Homo sapiens: one gene and its partners. The protein of the gene in region 3 interacts with the protein of the main gene of each other region in a pairwise test. Each region holds a gene or a part of one and is shown on either strand. Other genes may lie near its edges.

The links. Proteins that work in one complex are often made in the same cells at the same time.
Region 1: the proteins of SEC23B (region 3) and CPSF7 interact in binary tests that used the Homo sapiens proteins (3 or more experiments, as listed by UniProt).
Region 2: the proteins of SEC23B (region 3) and RIN1 interact in binary tests that used the Homo sapiens proteins (3 or more experiments, as listed by UniProt).

What each region holds. Positions count from the first base shown.
Region 1 is NC_000011.10:61,404,654-61,412,975, forward strand, and holds part of CPSF7 (cleavage and polyadenylation specificity factor subunit 7), read right to left. Parts: intron 7,285-8,322; coding exon 7,116-7,284; intron 6,453-7,115; coding exon 6,290-6,452; 3' UTR 6,285-6,289; exon of another isoform or gene 5,928-6,284; intron 52-5,927; 3' UTR 1-51.
Region 2 is NC_000011.10:66,328,419-66,333,434, forward strand, and holds the end of RIN1 (ras and Rab interactor 1), read right to left. Parts: intron 4,992-5,016; coding exon 4,840-4,991; intron 4,335-4,839; coding exon 3,858-4,334; 3' UTR 1,823-3,857; downstream 1-1,822. UniProt on the Homo sapiens protein: Ras effector protein, which may serve as an inhibitory modulator of neuronal plasticity in aversive memory formation. Can affect Ras signaling at different levels. First, by competing with RAF1 protein for binding to activated Ras.
Region 3 is NC_000020.11:18,524,940-18,534,583, reverse strand, and holds part of SEC23B (protein transport protein Sec23B), read right to left. Parts: coding exon 9,564-9,644; intron 8,797-9,563; coding exon 8,652-8,796; intron 8,212-8,651; coding exon 8,053-8,211; intron 7,089-8,052; coding exon 6,973-7,088; intron 3,905-6,972; coding exon 3,781-3,904; intron 1,921-3,780; coding exon 1,840-1,920; intron 1-1,839. UniProt on the Homo sapiens protein: Component of the coat protein complex II (COPII) which promotes the formation of transport vesicles from the endoplasmic reticulum (ER).

The DNA of each region.
Region 1 (8,322 bases), on a different chromosome or scaffold from region 3:
AGGTGAGGAGATGCAAGTCCATTAAAAAAACATTTGCTTCCAACCAGACTCCTGCAATGAGAACATCAGAAGAAAAGAAAGAAAACACAAGTTAGAGGTTACTTTCTGAATGACAGGGGCTTATATAAAACACACATATTCTAACGCTACAACATAAGAAGTAAGGAATGCAGACAGAGAATGCAAGTCTGGGAAAACAAAGCAGGACTGTCTGACACTAGAAGTGGTGAGGAATGGCTGGAGGAGAAGCTACTGTGAGTAGAGAGAAAAAAAGCAGTGACATCCACTATAAAGATTCGGTGAAAAAACAGAACAAAATGAGGTCTCTGAACGTTCGACTGAAAAGGAGACTTTGGCTGCAAAAGTATGGAAACTGTGACATATTTCAAGAAAAGTTGCTAAAAGGGAATAAGGTGAGTTTAAATATAGGTTAAGAAGTCTATTCTGTGCAAGTCATAGCTTACCTTAAGGGGAGGGGGAAAAATCTGGAAATGGGAGGTTTAGTGGTAAGAAAACAAGTATGTACACAACCAAATCCATTAATCCCCAAACACCCAAGAGGCCCTAGCAGGCAGGATGCACATACACAGGAAACTCTTAAATCCTTCTTTTTTCTTTTTAAAGGAGTCCTGGCTAAAAGTGCCTTTATGAGTATGTGTGTACACAAACACAGCCCCAGAGGTTTTCCAAGTGTACTAAAACTCGAGATTTTAAGTCTTTCCTCGCATGACAGCCATAGGTGAGGAACCAGGAAACATACTAACACTAAGCAGGAGTCACGTGGCCAGGCCAGAACAGAAAGCAGAGCATGGAAGAAACCTAAATGCAGTTAAGAAGTTTTACCCAAAAGGGTCTATTAAGCCACCTGTCACATGGCCACCAAACAAAGTTCCTACTATACTCAGCACCTGTTCCAATGCTGCAATACCCATCTGCGGGTGGTGGTATGGTCAGTCTGAGCATATTAAACAGAATTAATAGCCAAAGGGAAAATGAGGAATTAGAATTTCTCCTAATGCCCAAACTGGCAACACAGCCTACGCACAAATGTTTACCTTTTATATAACTACTTCTGTAAAGTGGCCTTATAAAACCTAGAGGAGACATCTACGTCCTCCCTGATCCTTGTACACACCGAAATGACACTATTTTCAGCTTGGGTCCTCAGAATCTATATGGCCTAAGCCTTCCTGGCCTGTCTAAACACCTACGCAGGCTGGTATTTGTCCCATTTTCTCTAAGGGAAAACTGAAGCCCTCAGTGCACTCAATTACATACCATTAGGGCTTCTGAATCTTTGAATTCGATCCAAATTGAAGAGAAAGCTCAGTTTTCAATGGATAACGAGGACAGGAATGACGTGAGAATGACTATATTTCAAGTAGGATAATGTCCTAAAATAATGAGATAACTGACATAGTTGAGAACTACAAAAAGTTGAAGACACAGGTTGCAGAGGATAACTTGTACACCAAGAGAAGCAAGCCATAGCACTGAATTCTTAAATCTCCATGGCTACATTTTGGTGCCAATGTTGGAATGCAGGCAGAAATCAGAGATTCCTTCAAGTGGGCCAATTAGCCTTCAGGCCCCAGAACTGGGTCTTACGCCGAGAAAAGATGGACAAAGAAGGCTACTGTTCTATTGCTGCCTCTGGACAAAATGTACCTTTCACTCTCAGGGAACAGCTGTCATCATAGAATATAAATATGATTCATTTCTAACTAAAAGGTTGCTATAAATGAGGACCATGTACCATCTTCCCAACATGAAACTTCCTAAGCCATAACTTGGTCACTACAGATGGAATTAAGAGTCCTTAGGGTGAGAATGTAAGAAATTGACATTCTTGGGGTGCCTGATTCAGTTCTTTCAGACTATTATTCAGATGCAATAACCACTATATCAAACGGGTGACCAGGAAAAGTGAGGAAGTAGAAAACCTGCCTCAGAGTTAATTTTTCCCATCTTGTCATGGGCCTACACAAGTCAAATGACTGTTTTCTAGGCAATATTGTTACAGCATTTTCAAAGTTACCAAAAGAGAGTTATCCTCATAATGGGAGAAATAGTCTCATCTTATTTTATTTTTATTACTATTTTTTTTGAGACAGGGTCTTGCTCTATTGCCCAGGCTGGAGTGCAGTGGCACAAACATGGCTCACTGCAGCCTCTATCTCCCGGGCTCAAGTGATCCTCCCACCTAAGTGCCCCCAAGTAGCTGGGACTCCTCCTGCCTCAGCACCCCCAAGTAGCTGGGACTACAGGAGCACATCACCATGCCCAGCTAGTTTTGTATCTCTGGTAGAGACGAGTGTTTTGCCATGTTCCTCAGGCTGGTCCCTGAGCTCAAGCGATCTGCCCCTCTCGGCCTCCCAAAGTGTTGAAGTTACAGGCATGAGCCACTGTGCCTGGCCCCATTTTATAAGTGGAAGAAATAATGCAAAGTGACAGCTAAAGACTCAGGTTGAGATGTTTAATTCTCAAACTACTGCTGGATCAGTGGATCTCGCTGGTAATTTCCCTGTCATAAGGCTGTCAGGAGCAAAGCCATCAGGAATGGTGACATGCATTTATGTTCTAACTACTAAACTGAATGCAGCCCCAAAGACGACAGTGCATGCTCTGCACAGGTCAATCATCACCTTCCTGTTCACTCTTATCCCAGTCAGCTCCAAAAGACATACACTGTAGCCTACATGTGCTTTTCAACCCACAAGTAACACTAGCAACTGTGCAGACTCAAACAAGAAAAGGGAGTTAGGACTGGACCAAGACCAACTCTAATGCCTGCCCTCATGCCCACCTGAGACTGAATTAGGCCAAAGTTGTTTGTGGTCTCCATCTACAATAGCGTCTGCTTTTCCAGAGGATACATGGGCATCTCCCCAAACTCAACCTGTTGCAAAATCTAGAAAGAAGTACCTGGAGCCCACAGCCTAACTGTTGATTCTACATGAGTTAACCTAGATTTCAATGATGTTAAGCACTCTAGGATTTTGTGGAATAAATGAGTGGCTAACAACAGAGAACAGAGACAAAAAATATTAGTAATTTTTCATCTTTCCACTTACTTGTTTGGGAGAAGATAAAAACAATTCCTGGCTATAAATCTATTTAAGCTAATGGCCAAAGAACAAGACAGAGGGCAGTAGCCAAACCTAAAAGGAGTATTTTGGTTTTTAGTAGGTTGTCACTGGGCAAAATACTGCTAATTTTCCAACTATTTACATTCCAGCTACTGCTCATGAACTATAGGGGCTCACAGGTGGTGAGTTTCTTTGTCCTTCTTCATCCAGATATCGCCATCCCAAAGACACCAAAAAGAACTACTATTCTTTCCCCTCACCTTCCTTTTCAATTACCATTACTTTAGATCAAGCAGGCAAATAATCAAGGACATCTTTTTTTTTTTTTTTTTGAGACAGAGTCTCACTCTGTCGCCCAGGCTGGAGTACAGTGGCGCGATCTCGGCTCACTGCAAGCTCTGCCTCCCGGGTTCATGCCATTCTCCTGCCTCAGCCTCCTGAGTAGCTGGGACTACAGGCACCTGCCACCATGCCCGGCTAATTTTTTTGTGTGTATTTTTAGTAGAGATGGGGTTTCACCGTGTTAGCCAGGATGGTCTCGGTCGGGATAGAGACGGGGTTTCACCATGTTAGCCAGGACGGTCTCAATCTCCTGACCTCGTGATCCACCCACCTTGGCCTCCCAAAGTGCTGGGATTTCAGGTGTGAGCCACCGTGCTCGGCCAAGGACATCTTCCTAATGTACTTGATGTGAGACAGAGAAATGGGAAGTCCTAGAGACTTATAAATCTGCAACCACAAAATTAAGAAAGGACCCTGAAGTTACCTGGGTCACGCAGTAGCCTCCAAGAACTACAGACAGACCCCTAGCCACTCTGGCCTATTTTAAAGATTTCCATAGAAGCAGAGACAACACCTGCTCCTATATGCTTATATAATAGAAACAATCTTTCCAGAAGTTTTCCTTCAGTTGGGATTGCTAAGCTGGTAGGATGCAACCTAAAGACACAGCACCCCCTCTGACTCCCTACCAATATGGAGCCTGTCTAAGAATGAAAGCAACAGAGAAAAGCAGAGCTGAGAGATGCAGATAAAGTCTGGATGACACAGCCAGAGCCCCTGGATCCAACCAATCTTAACTGAACTTCTCCATTACTTAAGAGTTTTTATCCCAACCTTCCTGCTTTCATTTTGCTTCAAAAGAAAATTACAGCCAGTCGCAGTGGCTTCATGCCCATAATCCCACAGCACATTGGGAGGCTGAGGCAGGGGGATCACTTGAGGCCAGGAGTTCAAGACCAGCCTGGGCAACAAAGCAAGACTCTACAAAAAATTTAAAAATTAGCCCTCAGGAGGCTGAGGCAGGAGGATCACCTGAGCCCAGGAGGTTGATGTTACAGAGCCATGATGGTGCCTCATGACAGTGCACTCCAGCCTGGGTGACAGAGTGAGACAATGTGTCTATTAAAAAAACAAAAACAAAAACAAAACAAAACAAAACAAAAAAACAGCCGGGTGCGGTGGCTCACGCCTGTAATCCCAGCACTTTGGGAGGCCGAGTCAGGTGGATCACGAGGTCAGGAGTTCAAGACCAGCCTGGCCGAGATGATGAAACCCCGTCTCTACTGAAAATACAAAAATTAGCCGGGCGTGGTGGTGGGCGCTTGTAATCCCAGCTACTCGGGAGGCTGAGGCAGAGAATTGCTTGAACCCGGGAGGTGGAGTTTGCAGTGAGCCGAGATTGCGCCACTGCACTCCAGCCTGGGCAAGAGTGAGACTCTGTCTCAAAACAAAACAAAACAAAAAACACAACAACAAAATAAACAACCTTGTCACTAAGTCTTTTCCAAAAGCAAAAAACCCTTCCGTTGAAGTTAATTATCCACCACAAAGCCTCTAAACCTGTTAAAGATAATTTTTCAGATCAGCTTTCTCCTCTCTGACTAAAGCATATTAATTTTCAAAATCTTTTAAATAAACCGTTTTTTTTTTTTTAAAGAGATGGGGTCTCGGCCAGGCATGGTGGCTCACGCCTGTAATCCTAGCACTTTGGGAGGCCAAGGTGGGCTGATCACGAAGTCAGGAGTTCAAGGCCAACCTGGCCAGTATGGTAAAGCCCCGCCTCTACTAAAAACAGAAAAATTAGCGGGCGTGGTGACGCGCGCCTGTAGCCCCAGCTGCTGGGGAGGCTGAGGCAGAATAGCTTGAACCCGGGAAGTGGGGGTTGCAGTGAGCTGAGATCATGCCACTATACTCCAGCGTGGGCGGCAAAGTGAGGCTCTGTCTCAAAAAAAAAAAGATAGGGTTTCACTATGTTGCTCAGGCTGGTCTCAAACTCCTGCTTAAGTGATCCTCTAGCCTCTGCCTCCCAAATTACTGAAGTGATGGGATTACAGGCATGAGGCACCCACCCGCCCCTCCTCCCTACCTTTTTTCAGACAAGGTCTCACTGTCGCTCAGGCCAGAGTGCAGTGGTGCAATCACAGATCACTGCAGCCTCGACCTCCTAGGCTCAAGCAACCCTCCCACCTCCACCTCCTAAGTAGCTGGGACCACCACACTTGGCTAATTTTTGTATTTTTTGTAGAGACAGGGTCTCCCTATGTTGCCCAGGCTGGTCTCGAACTCCTGGCTCAAACAATCCTCCCATCTTGGCCTCCCAAAGTGCTGGGATCATAGGTGTGAGCCATCATGCCAAGCCTAATTCTTAAAATCATTAATGTTGCAGCTTGAAAACTAAGTGGCAATGGCTTTACTATTCTTAGTCAATTTTCCTAATTTAAATTGAAAGTTCATAATGATAATAACAATGGCTATTAATTATTGAGAACTTACTATGTGACAGGTACCATGAGTGCTAAATGGTCTACATGGACTCTCTCACTAAAACTTAGCAAGTCACTGGGACAGTTGCTTTTATTATCTTCATTTACAAATGAAACTGTGGAACAGAAAGTAATATGGCCAATTATTAGTGGAGAAACTGGGATTCAAATTGGTACCTGAATGCAGACACCATACTCTCACTCAGATACCAGGTTAAGGCAGTCAAGAAACAAGCAGAAACAGCTGAATCTCAGGGTAAGACTCCCCATAAATGTGCAGAAAATCTGCCCTGAAATTCCAGTTATGTAAATCAGAAGTTCCCCCTACCCTTGCTGCATTTACTTTTGCTTTAAAGAGAGAGAATTCTTCACTATAAATCTTTTTTTAATAAAAAATCCCCCAGCAGCCAGGAACGGGGCTTCTCCCCACCTTTCTCAGTGGTGCCGGTCCCGTTCTCTATCCCGGTGTCTCTCATGCTCCCGGTTCCTTTCTTGGAAATAATCATCATGCCGATCTTCATTATGAAGCAGATCCCGGTGCCTCCTGCTGCTCTCCCGGGACCGGCTAGGTGACCTTTCCCGGGAGCGATGTCTTTTCCTATTAGAAAGATCCTTCAGCCTCACTCAGAAGGCCTACCACTTTCTTTCCAAGAATGTGGTGTTTTGGTGTCTTCTGATATTTGCCTAAACTATTCCTCTATTACTCTATCATGGGCCTGCTGTCTGAGGATTTTAGCTCTTTGAGGACTACTCTTTTTTGGGAAGATGATTAACAGGTAAATTTATCTGTTGAGAACTAATTTATCAGGTGTAGTGCTAATAATTTTGTATGGATTATCTGACCTAATCTTTACAACAGGTCTGTAAGATAAATACTATCAGTGTCCCTTTTTTAGAAAATGAGAAAAATAAGGCTTGGAAAGTTGACTAACTTCCATACACAAGAAGGTCATACAGATAGTTAGCAGCAGAACTGGGATTCCAATCCAAGCTTGTAGGGCTCCAAAACCCATGTTCTTAAAAATATCTGTCTGTATTTTTTCCTACATGAGCCCACTGCCTCACCCACCAGATTCCAGATGTTACAACACTTATTAATGAAAGCATCTGATTAGTTTCTTCCCCAAAAAGACATGAAGGCTAACGTCCAGACTTTCGGCCAGGTCTTTCCCAGATTCCCTGGGCTCCATTTGTCCCCACTCCCTATCCCTGGAAGAGTGCTGCTTGGGGCTGGTAGGTGAGGACACAATCACCAACTCACCTGGAAGAGCTCCCACTGGCACCCACACTGTAGGACTTGGCTTCGATGCCATGAAGACAGTCCTTAAGAGAGGAGATGAGGACACGGCAACGCTCATCATTGGCAACCCGGGACTGTTTGATAACCGCAATGGCTGTGAGCAGCGTCTCAATTGCGTCACTGTAATCCCCTGATAAAGGATGAAGGAGAAAGGCCAAGGGTGAGGAGAGATGGTAAACTAACTGGACCAAAAGGAGAACTCAGGCAGACACAAACCAAGAGTAGCTAGCCGTCCCAAACAACCGCGGTAAAAGAGACAAGGCAGATGTTGCAAGTGTAAAACTGGATGACACCTATATTCCAGCAGTTCGGAATTTAACAGATGTTGTCAGATGAACAAACTGACACACTGTTGTCCAGGGGCTATTTGACATCTATTAAAATAAACAATGTGCATATTTTTTGAGCCAGCAATTCTATTAAAAATTTTCTACTTCTGTTCACAAGTGTGTATGTTTAACAGTGTTTTAGTGTTTATTTTTTTTCATTTTTTTTTTTTTTGAGACAGTCTCACTCTGTTGCCCAGGCTGGAGTGCAGTGGCCGTGATCTCGGCTCACTGCAAGCTCCGCCTCCCAGGTTCACGCCATCCTCCTGCCTCAGCCTCCTGAGTAGCTGGGACTACAGGCGCCTGCCACCACACCCAGCTAATGTTTTGTATTATTAATAGAGACGGAGTTTCACCGTGTTAGCCAGGATGGTCTTGATCTCCTGACCCTGTGATCCGCCCGCCTTGGCCTCCCAAAGTGCTGGGATTACAGGCATGAGCCACTGCGCCCGGCCAGTGTTGTTTGTTATATTATCTTCAATAGGGTCTGGCTATATAAAGGAACATTGGTTCTACAGAATATTACATTATTAATGTACTATTAACAATTAAAAAAGCAGGAGGTAAACCTGTATGTAAACAAAGTAATCCATGTAAAGCCCTTAGCACAGTGCCAGGCACACAGTAAGGATCAATAAATGTTATGTTATATGTTGATATAATAGGTGTCCAGAATATACTAATTGAAACAAGCAAGTTTCAAAACCATATCCTGTTTTTGTAAAAACAATAAAAATTATATAAATTGTCATATGCATAGAAAAAATTCTGGAGGAATATAAACTATAAAAGGTGGTCTTATTGGTTGATGGTCCTTGTATAGAGGACTATTTTGTTTTTGA
Region 2 (5,016 bases), on a different chromosome or scaffold from region 3:
AGCACTGAGTCCCCTGGGTCCTCCGCCTCAGCAGAGGGGACCCTGCACGTGGCCAGGAATGAGGTGCGCTCTGCCCCCTGGTGGCAGCAATGAAGGATGCGCCACCCTGCAACCCAGGAAAGCGGAGGGACAGTTTAGGCTGCGTCTTTCCGAATCAGTCATTCCACATAGATTCACAAGTGCCAGTTCCGGCCCGGCCATTGTTCAAGGCCCTTGAGATTTAACTGCGAACAAGGTGGGGGTGGCTCTGGCATTCTAGTGAGGGAAACAGACAATAAACTTGCATACAGAACCACCGTGACTTTAGGAGTGATAAGGTCAATGCTTCCAAGTAAGGAAATGACCCGACTGCTCTTTCATAGATCCAAACGTCAGAGTTCCAGTCTTGCCCTGCAGCAGCGGACGCTGGGCCAGGCATGTCACCTCTTGGAGCCTTGGCTTCTTTTTCCATAAGGACAAAGGCTGGGGAAGGGGTGGCATGGAATCCCTAGGACACAGTGAGCTTTCAGTTACCACCCAGATCACGCCATGCAAATGGAGAGATGTGACCTATTTCCCTTTGGCTGGAGCTGGGGGCGCTTGGTGCTTGGTCTATAACAGACACTTCTGTTGTTGTTGTTGTTGTTTGATTTTTTTTTTTGGAGTCTTGCTCTGTCGCCCAGGCTGGAATGCAGTGGTGTGATCTCAGCTCACTGCAACCTCCACCTCCCAGGTTCAAGCAATTCTCCAGTCTCAGCCTCCCAAGTAGCTGGAACTACAGGCGTGAGCCACCTTGCCCAGCTAACTTCTATATTTTTAGTAGAGATGGGGTTTCACCATGTTGGCTAGGCTGGTCTTGAACTCCTGACCTCAGGTGATCTGCCTACCTCGGCCTCCCAGAGTGCTAGGATTACAGGCCTGAGCCACCTTGCCCGGCCTATAACAGATGTTTGATAGATGTGCTGAGTGGACATATAAATCAGCCCCTCTGCTTTGAAGGACTACAGAACCTGGTGTCTGAGCCCTTTGTCCTGTAACAAGGCACTTTCCCTGAGCAAGTCTGAGTTTTCTCATCTGTAAAATGGGGCTAGTGAGACTGGTCTTACACTGGCCTATCATTGTCTGCCTTGCCTGGAGGCTCTGCCCCAGGATCATAATCTTGTTGATGCTGATTTGGCCTGGACCCCTGACCAATCAGTTTCTTTTTTGTTTTCTTTTCATTTCTTTTTTTTTTTTGAGATGGAGTCTTGCTCTGTTGCCCAGGGTGGAGTGCAGTGGTGTGATCTCGGGTCACTGCAACCTCTGCCTCCCGGGTTCAAGTGATTCTCTTGCCTCAGCCTCCCCAGTAGCTGGGACTACAGGTGTGTGCCACGACGCCTGGCTAATTTTTGTATTTTTAGTAGAGACGGGGTTTCACCATGCTGGCCAGGCTGGTCTTGAACTCCTGACCTCAGGTGATCCACCGGCCTCGGCCTCCCAAAGTGTTGGGATTACAGGCGTGAGCCACCAGGCCCAGCCCAGAGTTTCTTGAGAAGAAAAACCACAAGACCCAGGCAGCAGCTCCCTGTGGTGCCCCATCACTGGGGAGGGCAGGGAGGGGGTCAGGTCATGCTGAGCCTGGCAAGGGTGGGAAGGGCTTGTAGAGGCCCCAGAGCCTCATTCCCATGAGGCCAGTTGTACATCCGGCCCCTGGGATCCTCCGAGCACCCTCTACAAACATTCCAGGTCCTTCCTCTGGGACTGAGCTTGACACATCCCGTGTTTGATTCCCAGAACCGAGTCCTCCCTTATACTCCCCAGGTTTCTGCCTCACTGTCCCTCACTCCTGGTTATCAAACTCCAATCAGTGAACAACATTTATTGAACACCTATGGCATTTGTGCTCAGCATTGGACTGTGTGAGGCACTAGGGGTGAGTGGTGAAACAGGGAGGGGAATAGAAGAGCCAACGGGACACTTCCTATCAGCGAGAACCTTGGGAGGGCGTGGAAGTGGGGAGGGAAGAGCTGCTGGTGGCCTAGTGACAAAAAAAATGGGAGCCGTGCAACTGGGCTGTATCTGGACTGCTCATCTGAAAGTCAATGTCTGGCTGGGTGTGGTAGCTCACGCCTGTAATCCCAGTACTTTGGGAGGCCAAGGCGGGCGGATCACCTGAGGTCGGGAGTTTGAGACCAGCCTGGCCAACATGGGGAAACCCCGTCTCTACTAGTAACACAAAAATTAGCCAGGTGTGGTGGTGCACACCTGTAGTCCCAGCTACTCGGGAGGCTGAGGCAGGAGAATCACTTGAACTGGGAGGCGAAGGTTGCTGTGAGCCGAGATGGCACCACTGCACTTTAGCCAGAGCGACAGAGCAAAACTCCATCTCAAACAAACAAACAAACAAAAAAACCCAAAAAGCCAATGTCCACGATTTCTACCTCCCAGTTGTCATGTCTGACATTTGGGCTGACGTCCCCTCTGTGCTCAGTGCCCGAGGAGAGAGCCTCTGGGGTCATCCTCCATAAGGGGACAATTCCTTCCTTCCTGGGGATGGCCCCCAAGAGGCTGGCCTTACCCAGACCCCAGAATCTAAGGGACCTGGGGGCCAGTGGCCTTGGCCCCTGCGCTGTCCCCAGGTTGCCTGATGCTGCTGGACTGCAAGGCCCGGGACCCCCTCTGCTGCTGCAGCCTTGGAGGCGCCCTCACCCCTGGGTGGTCACCCTCTCGGCAGATTCCCGGGCCGTGCACACCCCCTCGTGGTTGGTGGTCGGCACTTTTCCTTGTTTGGATTTGCTGCCTGCTCTGGGCTTCCTTGGGGGCTGCCCCGGCCTTTGTGGGTGGCTTAGAATGGAGGGTGGAGTTGGAACCTGATGCCCTGGTTTGGGCGGGGGAACCCTTAAGGACTTGCTATATGACATCCTGGGAGTCACTTTCCTGACCCTCAGTGGGCCCAACAAGTCATGGCCAAGTAAAGCTTTTGTGAGGGCCAAGAGTTTAGTGCAGAGAGCATGGTTTCTGAGCCCCCTCTCCATTCTGGAAGCTTATCTGCCAGCTGGTGGATCTCCCCAGAGATGCTGGAGGGCCTGGGAGGACTCCAAATCTTGGGGAGAGACTGTAACTTGGGTACTTTCTCCCCAGGGCCTGATTTCCAGGGGAATAACCTCCCTGAACTGGGCATCAGCAGGTGGGAGCCCTGTCTGGCAGAGAGCGGACTCCGGGAGAGAGTTAGCAGCCCAGCTCTCTCCCTCCCTTTCTGCCATGAGCTCTGCTTGTAGCAAAATCACCCATTTTGATCACTGGGACACTTCTGGGAGCCGAGCAGGGCAGCAATAGTGTCCCCACTTTACAGATGAGAGTACTGAGGCTTGCAGGTGCAGGTCCTTCTGGTGTCCAGGACAGGGGTGGGCCCCAAGCCTTTGCTGCTGTTCTGTGGCCTCTCTAAATCCTCCTGACACCTAAGAGCCATTGGAACCTTTTAGGGTCTGGAAGTCCCAGCCTGGTGGGAGATACTTGGGTGGAGCCCTGCCTCAGCCATGCCCATGAGGGGAAGGGTAAAAGGAGCTGAGACCGTCACCCTCCCCACGTCAGAGGTTGGGCATCTGTCGGATTCGCCCCCACTTGGCACACCCTCATTGCAGGCTGGCTCACCCTCAGCTGGGGGAGAAGAACAAGAGGCAAGGGGCCTTGGGCACACAGTCTGGGGGCCCCCGAAGCCCCCTCATCTTTATTCCAGTTCCTCAGATGTGGCAGTTCCCCCAGCTTCCCTGGAAACAAGTATCAGACAAAGGTGGTGGCAGACACAGGACAGGGCCCTGGGTGGGGCTTGCTGGCGCTAAAAGGATTTCTCAGCAGGCTCAGGGTCTCCCGCCCCGAATGACCCTTCTGGCCACTTCAAGCTACTCCTCTGCTGCCCGGCTTCCCTCTGCCTCTGGTTCCCCTGGCTGAGCAGGGCCTTCCTGGGCTTGACCCTGGCCCCCTTCAGCAGTTGTCTCAGACTGTTCCCGAATGTCCCTGGGGCTGGCTTTGACCCCAGCATCCCCATCTCCCTGGCACCCTTGCTCCTCCCCTCTGCTTCTTGCCTCTGACTGCCCACTGCCCTCCTCCTCTGTCACAGCCCCCTGGGTCTCAGGCCACTCCGCCCGGCGGTAGACGAGGTAGCCAGTGGTGGGCAGCCTGTGGGCCAGGGCCCCAGGGGGCAGGCGGTGGTAGCCCTGCTCCTTGTACAGGAAGAGGCCAAAAGTGTTGGGCTGGGTCACTCGGAACTTGGTGGCACAGAGCTGGTTCAGGGTGGCAATCGAGGCTTCTGGGGGCACGGCCAGGGTCTTGGAGGTGCAGCCACTGCTGGGATCCTGATAGGCTACTCGGAGGAGGTGCTATGCAGGAGGAGAAGCAAAAACAAGTACTCAGCCCCGGCTGGCATGCATCTGGCTCCAAAGCTGAGACATCAGCTTTCTGGGCTGTGCAGGGACAGGGTGGGTAGGTGGAGATCCAGTGGGAGAACCAAGCGGCAAAAGCTCTATGTGCTCCAGGGGTCGGCTTGTGGGCCACAGCCGCAGGTGCAAGGACAGCCCAGTGGGGCGCTCACAAGCCTGAGATGAAGATTTGATAGTGAGTAATTTGTGCCCCAAGCACTCTCCTGCATTAACTCATTTAATCTTCACCTCAACCCCAGGAGGTAGGTCCTATTACCCCATTTTACTGATGAGAAAACTGAGGCACGAAGTAGTTAAGTAACTCGCCCAAGTCCCCACAACCCAGTGGCAGAGCCAGGATTAGAACCCAGGATCTGTCTACAGAGTCTGGACTCTTCACCAAGGACAGGAAGGTGAAAGGCGGGGATGGCGTCTGGCTCTGAGGACACGGTGGAGGGCCTGTTACCTGGAAGCAGTGGGTGGCAGGCAGGCGGCGCTGCTCCCAGAGGCTGAGGGAGCGCCGTAGCTCCTGCACGGGGCTCAGTGGGAGGGTGTGGGCCTGACCCAGGCCACTCAGCAGGGCCAGGCTGGCAGAGAGGCTGGTCAGGTAGTAGCCACCTGGGACACAGGGTGGAAGAACACG
Region 3 (9,644 bases):
CCCTTACAGTAGAAAGGCAGTGGGGCAGTTACCACCATCACCAAGCGATCTAACTCAGCACATGTAACACGGGACAGCAGACATAGTGCCTCTGGATGTGACACAAGCATAAAGTACACACTGCCCAGGAACAATGCTTGGCAAAAAGGCTTTGCCTGAATGTAAACACACCTTTAACCCAGACTCTCACTTTACAAAGGCTGTAATATCAAATGCAATGCCAGTTGGGGTAAAAACAGCTACAAAGGGCATTTGGGGGGAAATTAGGAAAAAAATATGAACTAGATATTAGGAAATTATTATTTTCTTAAGTTTGATAATGACATCGTGGTAGGAGAACATCGTTATTTTTAGAAGATGCATACTGACGTGCTTAAGGACTGTCATGATATCTGCAAATTATTTTCAAAGGTCGGCAAAAAAAAAGTTGATAAATCAAATGTGGCAAATAAATGAAAATCAGATAAAGCAAATGTGGCAAACAAGACAACAGAGCAATTATGGCAAAATGTTAACAATCAATGACTAAATGGTAGGTATAGAAATTCATCACTCAGTATGTCTGAAAATTGTATTTTCCTATTCTTTGCATCCTCATTCCCCAAACAAAACTTTCATGGCTGAATTCTACTAGAAATATTAATTAGTTTGTACTAATTCATAAAAATACCTTCTTAAACTACTTCAAGAAGCCTTCAGCAGGCAGATTTTAAGTCCATGAAAAATATTTTATAACAAGGCAGCCTTCCAAAGCCTTGCCAGGAAATAGGGGTACAAGCCCCTTAGTACTCTGGGGGTAATGAATGACTCATCAGATGGGCTTTAGGGCAGCAATCTGCCTCACTCAGAAGGCTACAGGAATGTGCTCTCAAATCACCTTGCCTCTGCCAAGCTCAACAAAAGTTTAATTTATGTGGTCACCCAAGAACGTTTGTTGCTGACAACATGAAAGAAGACCCACACTTCCAGTGTGCCAGGCACTAACTGCTTCACCTGAACCAACTCATTTAAACCTCCTAACAATGCTGTAGAGTGGGCACTGTTATTATCCCCATTTGCCAGATAAGGATACTGAATCACAGAGCAAATAAGTCCTTTGCTCGGGCCAGGTGCGGGGTGTAAACCTGCACCTTGGATCCACATCTGGCTCTATGGTCTACCCTCCCATTGATGGTGACAATGAGGGAAGAACATGACTGTGTAACCCCAGCCCAGGACCACCTTAGAGAGGCCTTGCCAAACCGAATGGTTTGCCTCCTAGCAAGTAAAGTATAATCAGAGGAAGTGGACAATAAGCAAAGCCGCTCATCTCAAATGATAACTAAATTGTTCTCAAAAACTATTACTAGAGAAAACAGATGTCTGCACACACAGCAGTGTCACCCACTTCCACACCAACTCATGGTGGTCTCTGTTGTAAAAGGCTTGTTATTAGCTGAGTGAGACAAACGTATCACCTCTAAGGGCAATGAGCAATAGGCTTACTCTGGAAGGACTGTGCTGAATGTTTGCCTTGTGCTGAACAGCATGCCGTGGCTTTGGCACAACGACCATGGGTGGTGGAGTCAGGGGCACCTGGGCTCTAACTCCTTCATGTCAGTTCTGACCCTGAGCAAGATACTGAACCTTTCTGGGCCTCAGTTTCCTTCTCTCTAACCCTTTGGATGAACAGATGGAATAACACCACCTCTCCGAGTATAGTCATCAGTGAGGGTTAGCCCTTCTCCTGTCACTGCAGACACATCCAACAGGTGACACATGTGAGATCATCATGCTCTGACACTTCTGACGGGTTAAATCCGGGGCAGGAGGTGAGGGTGATGGAGTTGTTTTCCTTACATTTTCTGACACACACGGTCCTTTCACATTCAGAGATACGCATGGACCAATGGCTCCTGCAATCTTCAGTTCCCGAGAGGTCTATAACAAATATGTGACAGTGTAAAGTTAAAGATCACTTCAATCCACCCTGCTGTCATCATGGCCACAATGAAAGCTTAGAGGGAAAATATAACACTACTATTCTGCCAAGAGAAAACTCCACAGGGATCATAACTGCTTAGTCCTACAAACTTTTCCTCAGCCACTGTGATTAGAACTTTAATAAAATCCACCCTTAGAAACACTTGAAACATGAGCATTTTCAACTCTCACAACTTACTTTTTAAACTTGGAAATTACTGTACATGTAGATAACAATTCTAACAATACTACATTCTTTTCCAATCCCTTGTATGAATATATTCACATTCATGTATATCCATAATTATTTGCATATACCTAATCAGAGAACATACTGTTTTGTGTTGCTTTAAAAATACTTAATTCATGAACTCCAATATAACGACAAGGCCAACATACTTAGATTTTTAAAATGTGAATTCATTTCAAAAGTCCATCTTTAAAAGAAAACCCTCAAGCATTTAAGATTATGGTTTAAAGTCTAACCTAGATGATTTAATAATTATCTCTAATTCTCCAAGTAATAATTCCAATCGTATCTTCTAATGACGGCCCCTGACCTGCCCCGCCAACTGGCAACTCTGTTGCCCAGGCTGAGTGCAGTGGCATGATCATAGCTCACTGCAGCCTCAAACTCCTGGGCACATGTGATTTTCCCGCCTCAGCCTCCTGAGTAGCTGGAACCACAGGTGTGCACCACCACACGAGGTTAATTTTTTTTTTTTTAAATCATTTGTAGACACAGGGTCTTGCTATGTTGCCCAGGCTGGTCTGTAATTCCAAAGCTCATGCAATCACCCCACCTTGGCCTCCCAAAGTGCTGGGATTACAGACATGAGCCACCGTGCCTGGCCTAACACCCTCTTTTAATGCTTTCTCAATGACTTAGAATCAGCTGTATCAGGGCCATGAGTCCCTACATGGGAAAAAAAAAATCTCAAAATGCTGTCTTTTTTTTTTTTTTTTTTTGAGACAGTTTCACTCGTTGCCACAGCTGGAGTGCAATGGCAGGATTTTGGCTCACCGCAACCTCCGCCTCCTACGTACAAGCCATTCTCCTGCCTCAGCCTCCCAAGTAGCTGGGGCTACAGGCATGTGCCACCACGCCCGGCTAGTTTTGTATTTTTAGGAGAGATGGGGTTTCTCCCTGTTGGTCAGGCTGGTCTCGAACTCCCAACCTCAGGTGATCCGCCCACCTCGGCCTGCCAAAGTGCTGGGATTACAAGCATGAGCCACCATGCCTGGCCCAGTGCTATTTTAGAGTACTTTGGCTATTCTTCAGGAAGACATTAAACATAACCACGTCTCTGTGCAATGCAGTGAGCCATGCTGATGGCTGGGTGGATGCAGACCACCGTGTGGCTGCCCCTGTCCTCAGGCCACAGTGCTGCTCATAACACCCACCCTACTTCCTCTTCTATCTCCTACTGCCTTGAAGCAGGGTGGAGCAGAGCCTGAGGGTGAACCAGGCAGCTTGTTACTTAGAACATAAATAAATATATAGGTCATCCTCAAGAAGCAAAGGGATAAAGTGAATAACATGCTTTTAATAGCCATTTGGTTGAGATCCTTTTAATTGGCTTTTACATGCCCATGTCCAGCAGGTGGAGGTTGCCAGAAGTCTGGATATTGATTGAAAAAGTAAGAACACTATAATTTCATTGAAGTTTTAAAAGTATGGCCAGGTACAGTGGCTCATGCCTCATAATCCCAGCACTTTAGGACGCTGAGGCGGGAAAATTGCCTGAGACCAGGAGTTTGAGACCAGCCTGGGCAGTACAGTGAGTCCACATAAAAAAAAAAAAAAGTTTACCGTACCTTTACGTCCAAAGTAGCACCAAATGCCATTCGGAAATCTCCATTAAAATCTTTAGTAAAGATTCTTTGGAATGTCTGCTTGAAGAGAGAAGTGTTGAAAGAATCTCCCATTACCATGTAGCCTCTAGGTAAGAAGAAAAAAATCAAGTGAATATTAGGAAGATTGAAAGCCATTCAGATGCTCCCTCAGTATTTACAAAAATAATTTAAAGAAAAAAAGAAACCAGGTCCCCAAAAGAGCCACTGATTAATTTAAATATAAAAAAACAGGCCAGGCACAGTGGCTCACGCCTGTAATCCCAGCACTTTGGGAGGCCAAGGAGGGCGGATCACTTGCGGTCAGGAGTTCAAGACCAGCCTAGCCAACATCGTGAAACCCCATCTCTGCTAAAAACACAAAGATTAGTAGCCACAATCCCAGCTACTCAGGAGGCTGAGGCAGGAGAATCACTTGAACCCAGGAGGCAGAGGTTGCAGCGAACCAAGATCGGACCACTGCACTCCAGCCTGGGCGACAGAGCAAGACTGTTTCTCAAACAAAAAAAAAATTAATAAATAAGTAAATAAATAATAAAATAAATTAAAAAAATAAAAACAGCATGTTAAATTCATACTTGGCAAAGAAACTACTTCTAAAGCATTAAACAGAAGCCTTAAGAACAGCTCTAATTCCTCTCACAGTTCTTTGGTATGGGAAAATACCCAGGCCTGTGGGAAATCCTTTTCAGGTTAATTTACTGCCTCAAAATACTGAATTCTTGACTTTACAAGAATTATGTTTTCCAACTCATGAGTATTAATATTAATCCCTTACTGAAGTTAGAGGAAAACATTGTGCAAAATGTCAGCATTTCATGCATTTGGACAGAAAAGCACAGCTTGACGCAAGTTATGCCTCCAAACGTCATTCATAAAACAAGATCTCAGAATCTTGAAGAACACAAGAAAGATCATCTGGTCCGGCCATCTCAGAGTGCCTGAACCGTCTGTCAGCTCTTTGGCACCAAATATCTACCTCTTCCTTAGTTTCCTGGAACAATGACATTTTCCAGCCTGCCTTGCCTATGGCCATGTGCCTCTGTTGGCATGTGCGTTCTGACTATTGCTGTGTCCTTTATATGTGGAGTGTGTTCCTCCAGGAAGAGCAATCCTTCTCTGACCTTTCCTCCTTCCTGCTGCTGTAAATGGCTAGAGCTCCAGCAACTGTCTTGAGCCACAGATGGCATATGAATGGTGGTAGAGCAGCTTAGTAGGAGCCTCAGCCCGTAATGATGACGAAAGCAACATACCAGCCCCGGACTGCCTACCGCCAGAGAAATAAACTTATTGTGGGTTTTCTGTGACATTCACACAACTCTAATACTAACACTCAACCAAACCCTCTGCAAAATACCTGCCAAGTTACATCCAGACTAGGCTTGAACTCCTCCAGCATTGGGAGCTTCCTCCCCAAGCTGTCCATTCTGTGTTTGAACAGCTCTGTTAAGAAAGGCCCTTCTTGATATTGAGTGAAATTTCATTTGCCAGCAGCTTCCACCCACTGGTTTGGTTCTAGTTCCACTCTTTGGTCACATACAGAACAAATCAGATTCCTTCACAGGGAAGTCCCTCAACTGCTGAATACAGTTCTCACACCCCCATGTGTCTTCAGCTTAATCTTTTCCAGCTACTTCAATCATTCCTCACATGACAGTTTCCAGGACTCTCCACCACTGCTCTTCTTCAAACATCTCCAATTCATCTCCTATTGCCCCTTGAAATTGCAATGTTCAGAACAGAAAACAATGTATTTGGATAAGGTGTGACTAGCACCAAAGAAACCAAGAATATGGTCTTCCCTGAAGATAATCTTCTCCTATAGCACAGCCTGGAATCACCTTGCCTTTGCTGGAAGTCATCCCACACTGTTGGCTCACCTTGAGCTATACTAACACATGTGTGCAACAGATGGTAACTCTTCACAGAAAAAATTCACACAAACTAGCATACAATCTAAGGGATGTTCACAAATACACTAAAGCTTTTCTATGGACATTCCGAGTCAGAACTCCTGGAAGGCCGTGGTAGGAATTCATACTATTAAATGTGGATTACTGAGATAGCTACATCAGTATCATTTGGGACCCTAATTCTATCACCTAACTCATCTGCTGCTCTCTAGGACAACTCCAACTGATTCTGGTTCTACCTTTTATTCCTTTTACTCACTGGGGACCAGCAGCATCACCTGTGGGGTTGTTAGAAATGCAGACTCTCAGGCCCATTCCACAGCTCTATGATGCTTCTCAAACTTCTGTGCATGCAAATCACCTGGGATATTGTTCAAATGCAGGTTCTGATTCAGGTCTAGAGTGAGGCTCAAGATGCTGCATGGTTCTCAAACTCGGCTCTATGTTAGAATCACGGGAGAAACTTTTAAAATGCTGATGCCCAGGCTGCACCTCATGCTAATTAAATTAGAATCTCTGAGGACAAGACCTAAAGAAAGTGTAGCTTTTAAAGTTCCCCTGGTGATAACAATACGTAGGCAGCTGCAGACCAGTGCTCATCAGTGGTTCCTACACTTTCATGTGCCCTAGAATCTCCTAGAGAGCTGCATTCCCGGGGTTTCCGATTCAGGAGGTCTGGGTAAGGCCTAGAAATATACAATTCCAATCAGTTCCCAGGAGCCCCTAAGGCTGCAAATCTGGACACCACCACATGTTGAGAACCACTGCTCCACACTCTGGCCTGTGAATACAATACTGACTCAGGCTTTGAGTCAGTACAACCTCTAGGCTGAGTGCACTTGGAGTTAGTCACAAAGTATGGCCACTTAGCCAGGTTTATCCTAGTTGTTTCAGCATTCAGACCCTGTTTTCCCCAATTCTCAAAAGGAAGTGCCCTGATGAAGGCCAGATAGTCCATGCTGCTTGCTTTCTTGGCCTGGTCTCTGTAAAAGTGTTAACAACTCTAAGGAAGAAATAAGTTACTCTGAAACGACTTATTTGTAGTGAACTCTTGAGCCCTCCTACTAATCACTACTTCCCTCTCCAAGGAGCCCACAGGCCCTCCCCAGTCACTGAAACCATAGCCCAGAGCTACCTGAAAGCTTCTCTGAGTTGGCCTTGCCCATTCCTATGGCTCCATCACTAATTTCTCTTTCCTTAAAATAACACTGTCACTCTGCCCAGGTTTTCACTGTCAACATACCCAGTAAGATTTGCACAACACTTCATCTCCAAAAGTCCAGTTTGATCAAGGGCACAAGCATAAATATCAATGCAGTGACCATTTGCAGCTGTTCGATTAGCAAGCATCTCATAGTGCTGTGAAGAGAGGAAAGCTATCTTTAGGAAACAGTGACATTATTCCCAAGGTATGCCTGAATTACCGAAGGAGGTAATCAAATATAAAAACATGTAAATCATTTTCTTTTCTCTTTTTGTGACAGAGTCTCTCTCTGTTGCCCAGGCTAGAGTGCAGTGGTGCGATCTCCACCTCCCGGGTTCAAGTGATCATCCTGCCTCAGCCTCCCAAGTAGCTGGGATTAAAAGCGTGCGCCACCATCCCCAGCAAATTTTTGTATTTTTATTTTTATTTACTTTTTGAGACAGTCTCACTCCGTCACCCAGGCTGGAGTGCAGTGGCACGATCTCAGCTCACTGCAACCTCTGCCTCCCAGGTTCAACGGATTCTCGTGCCTCAGCCTCCCGAGTAGCTGAAATTACAGGCACATGCCACCATGCCCAGCTAATTTTTGTATTTTTAGTACAGACAGGCGTTTCGCCATGTTGGCAAGACTCGTCTCGAACTCCTGACCTCAAGTGATCCGCCCACCTTGGCATCCCAAAGTGCTGGGACTACAGGCGTGAGTCACCACTCCTGGCTTAAATTTTGTATTTTTAGTAGAGATATGGTTTCACCACGTTGGCTAGGCTGGTCTTGAACTCCTGACCTGAAGTGATCTGCCAGCCTCGGCCTCCCAAAGCGCTGGGATTACAGCCGTGAGCCACCGGGACTGGCCTGGAAATCATTTTCAAAAATATCTGAATAAAATAAAAATATAGTTTTCATTCTCAAAACCCTTTGAGTAGTTTTAAGGCCACCCACTCTAATTAAGGTCTGAAAGTAGGAGCAATAATTTAACAGCAGCTAAGATTGGAAAACTGTCTCTGAAACAGCGTCTTGCTGACCATGACACATGACCTTGGCAAAGTAGCTGTCACTCCAGAGCAGCCCAAACCTGACAATGGGCTTTCAGAATTACAGCCCATACCCAAGAGCACCTACCTTGGTTGCCTTTTTCATGAATCGTGCATTATCTTTCTCAATATCATGCCAAGAACGAATAGGAATCTTTAATTCATCTCCAACCACCATGCCAGGCCCTTGGGTAGGGGGACCTCCAGTAAACAGCATGATCCTGGCTCCTGTGTTTGGAAAAGTGCCCTAAAATAGCGAATGGCAGCATGTTAGAAGTATACAGCCTCACCTTTTAGTATGGTTTCAGTTTCCCAATAGAAATACTCCAAAGATGCATTCTCTCCAGCTGTCCTAAAAAGTGGTGATAATGCAGAATAATACAGATGATAATGCAGAAAAGCAGCACTTGTCTTCTTCCAACCTTATGGGTTTGCACAGTTTTATTAATTCGCTGTTTGAGTGCTCCCTATTGCTCTAATTCTTAGTTTTTCAATGAAAACTTTTGGCATTTTCAAAATGTTGAGGGGCTCCCTCAACGTGAATGATAATGATGCCTCAAATGCTTTCTGATACATTAACACAGACGGTTGACTTAGATCACAAGTGATTTTCAAACAAAGCCAACAAATATATTTTCTGAGAGCACATTTGTATGATTTGAGAGGTCCTGGTAAATTTTAAATTACCTCCAGCAAGCCAACAGCAATGGACAAAGCCACACCAGTGGATCGCAAAGGTCTCTTCCCCTGAGTTACTGGCCATGGGTCCCTCTGTAGCTCCCCAAGAAGATCAGTGAGGTTCATATCAATCTTGTGAACAGGCTGCAGAAATCTGCAAGATTTTAACAGACACATCAACCCAGATTGAATAAAGTACTCTGGTCTTCAACACTAGGTGCCACATAATTACTGCTCTTCAAGATAATTATTCAGAGTAGTAACTGACTGGTAATTTTTTTCTTCAAAGCTATCTCTCTACTAACACAAAACAATTTAAAGCAGTTTTATTGAGGAATATAAAGCCCAGTACTTAGCAATTTACTTATGTTGCACGGAAAAAAAAATTGTCTGGAAAAGGAGCAATTCAGTTTAATTAATTTTTAGACAGCAAAAAAATCCTAAGGACATGCCTAACATGAGTTCAGTCTATGTGAGGTCCATTTATGTGGACAATCTTCATCATTCCTCATCATTCTAATCTGTGCTTCTCTTAAGCCTTGAAAGTAAGAGGTTGTCTTCAGCATGTCGGGCAATGCATTTTATCGAGCTTGTTAGCTCAGTCTAGGCACTCAATGGGCTGAGTCAAGTGAATACCCGGTCATAAGTATGTTTGAGGACACATGAAAGAAGTCTTTTCAGTTTTTCCAGTTTTACTTAAGCATCAAAAAGGACATCAGATGTGGAATGTCTAAAAACAGCAATTGAGCACAGTGGTCTCCAAACCTTTTTGACAAAACACTGAATATTGATTAGGCTTAATCATTTATCTTTTTCTCTAATAATAAGAAAATACAAATTCTAATATTTTTCTTCCCTTACTCCCATGGATCATCTGCATGTCCATCACAATACGTGTAACACTCCATGTTGGGCTCTCACCTGCTTGAAGCAAAAGGGTGCTCCTGTGGTTGTGCAGGTCGTGCTTGCTGCATGGGCATGGCTGGCTTGGTCAGGCCCAAC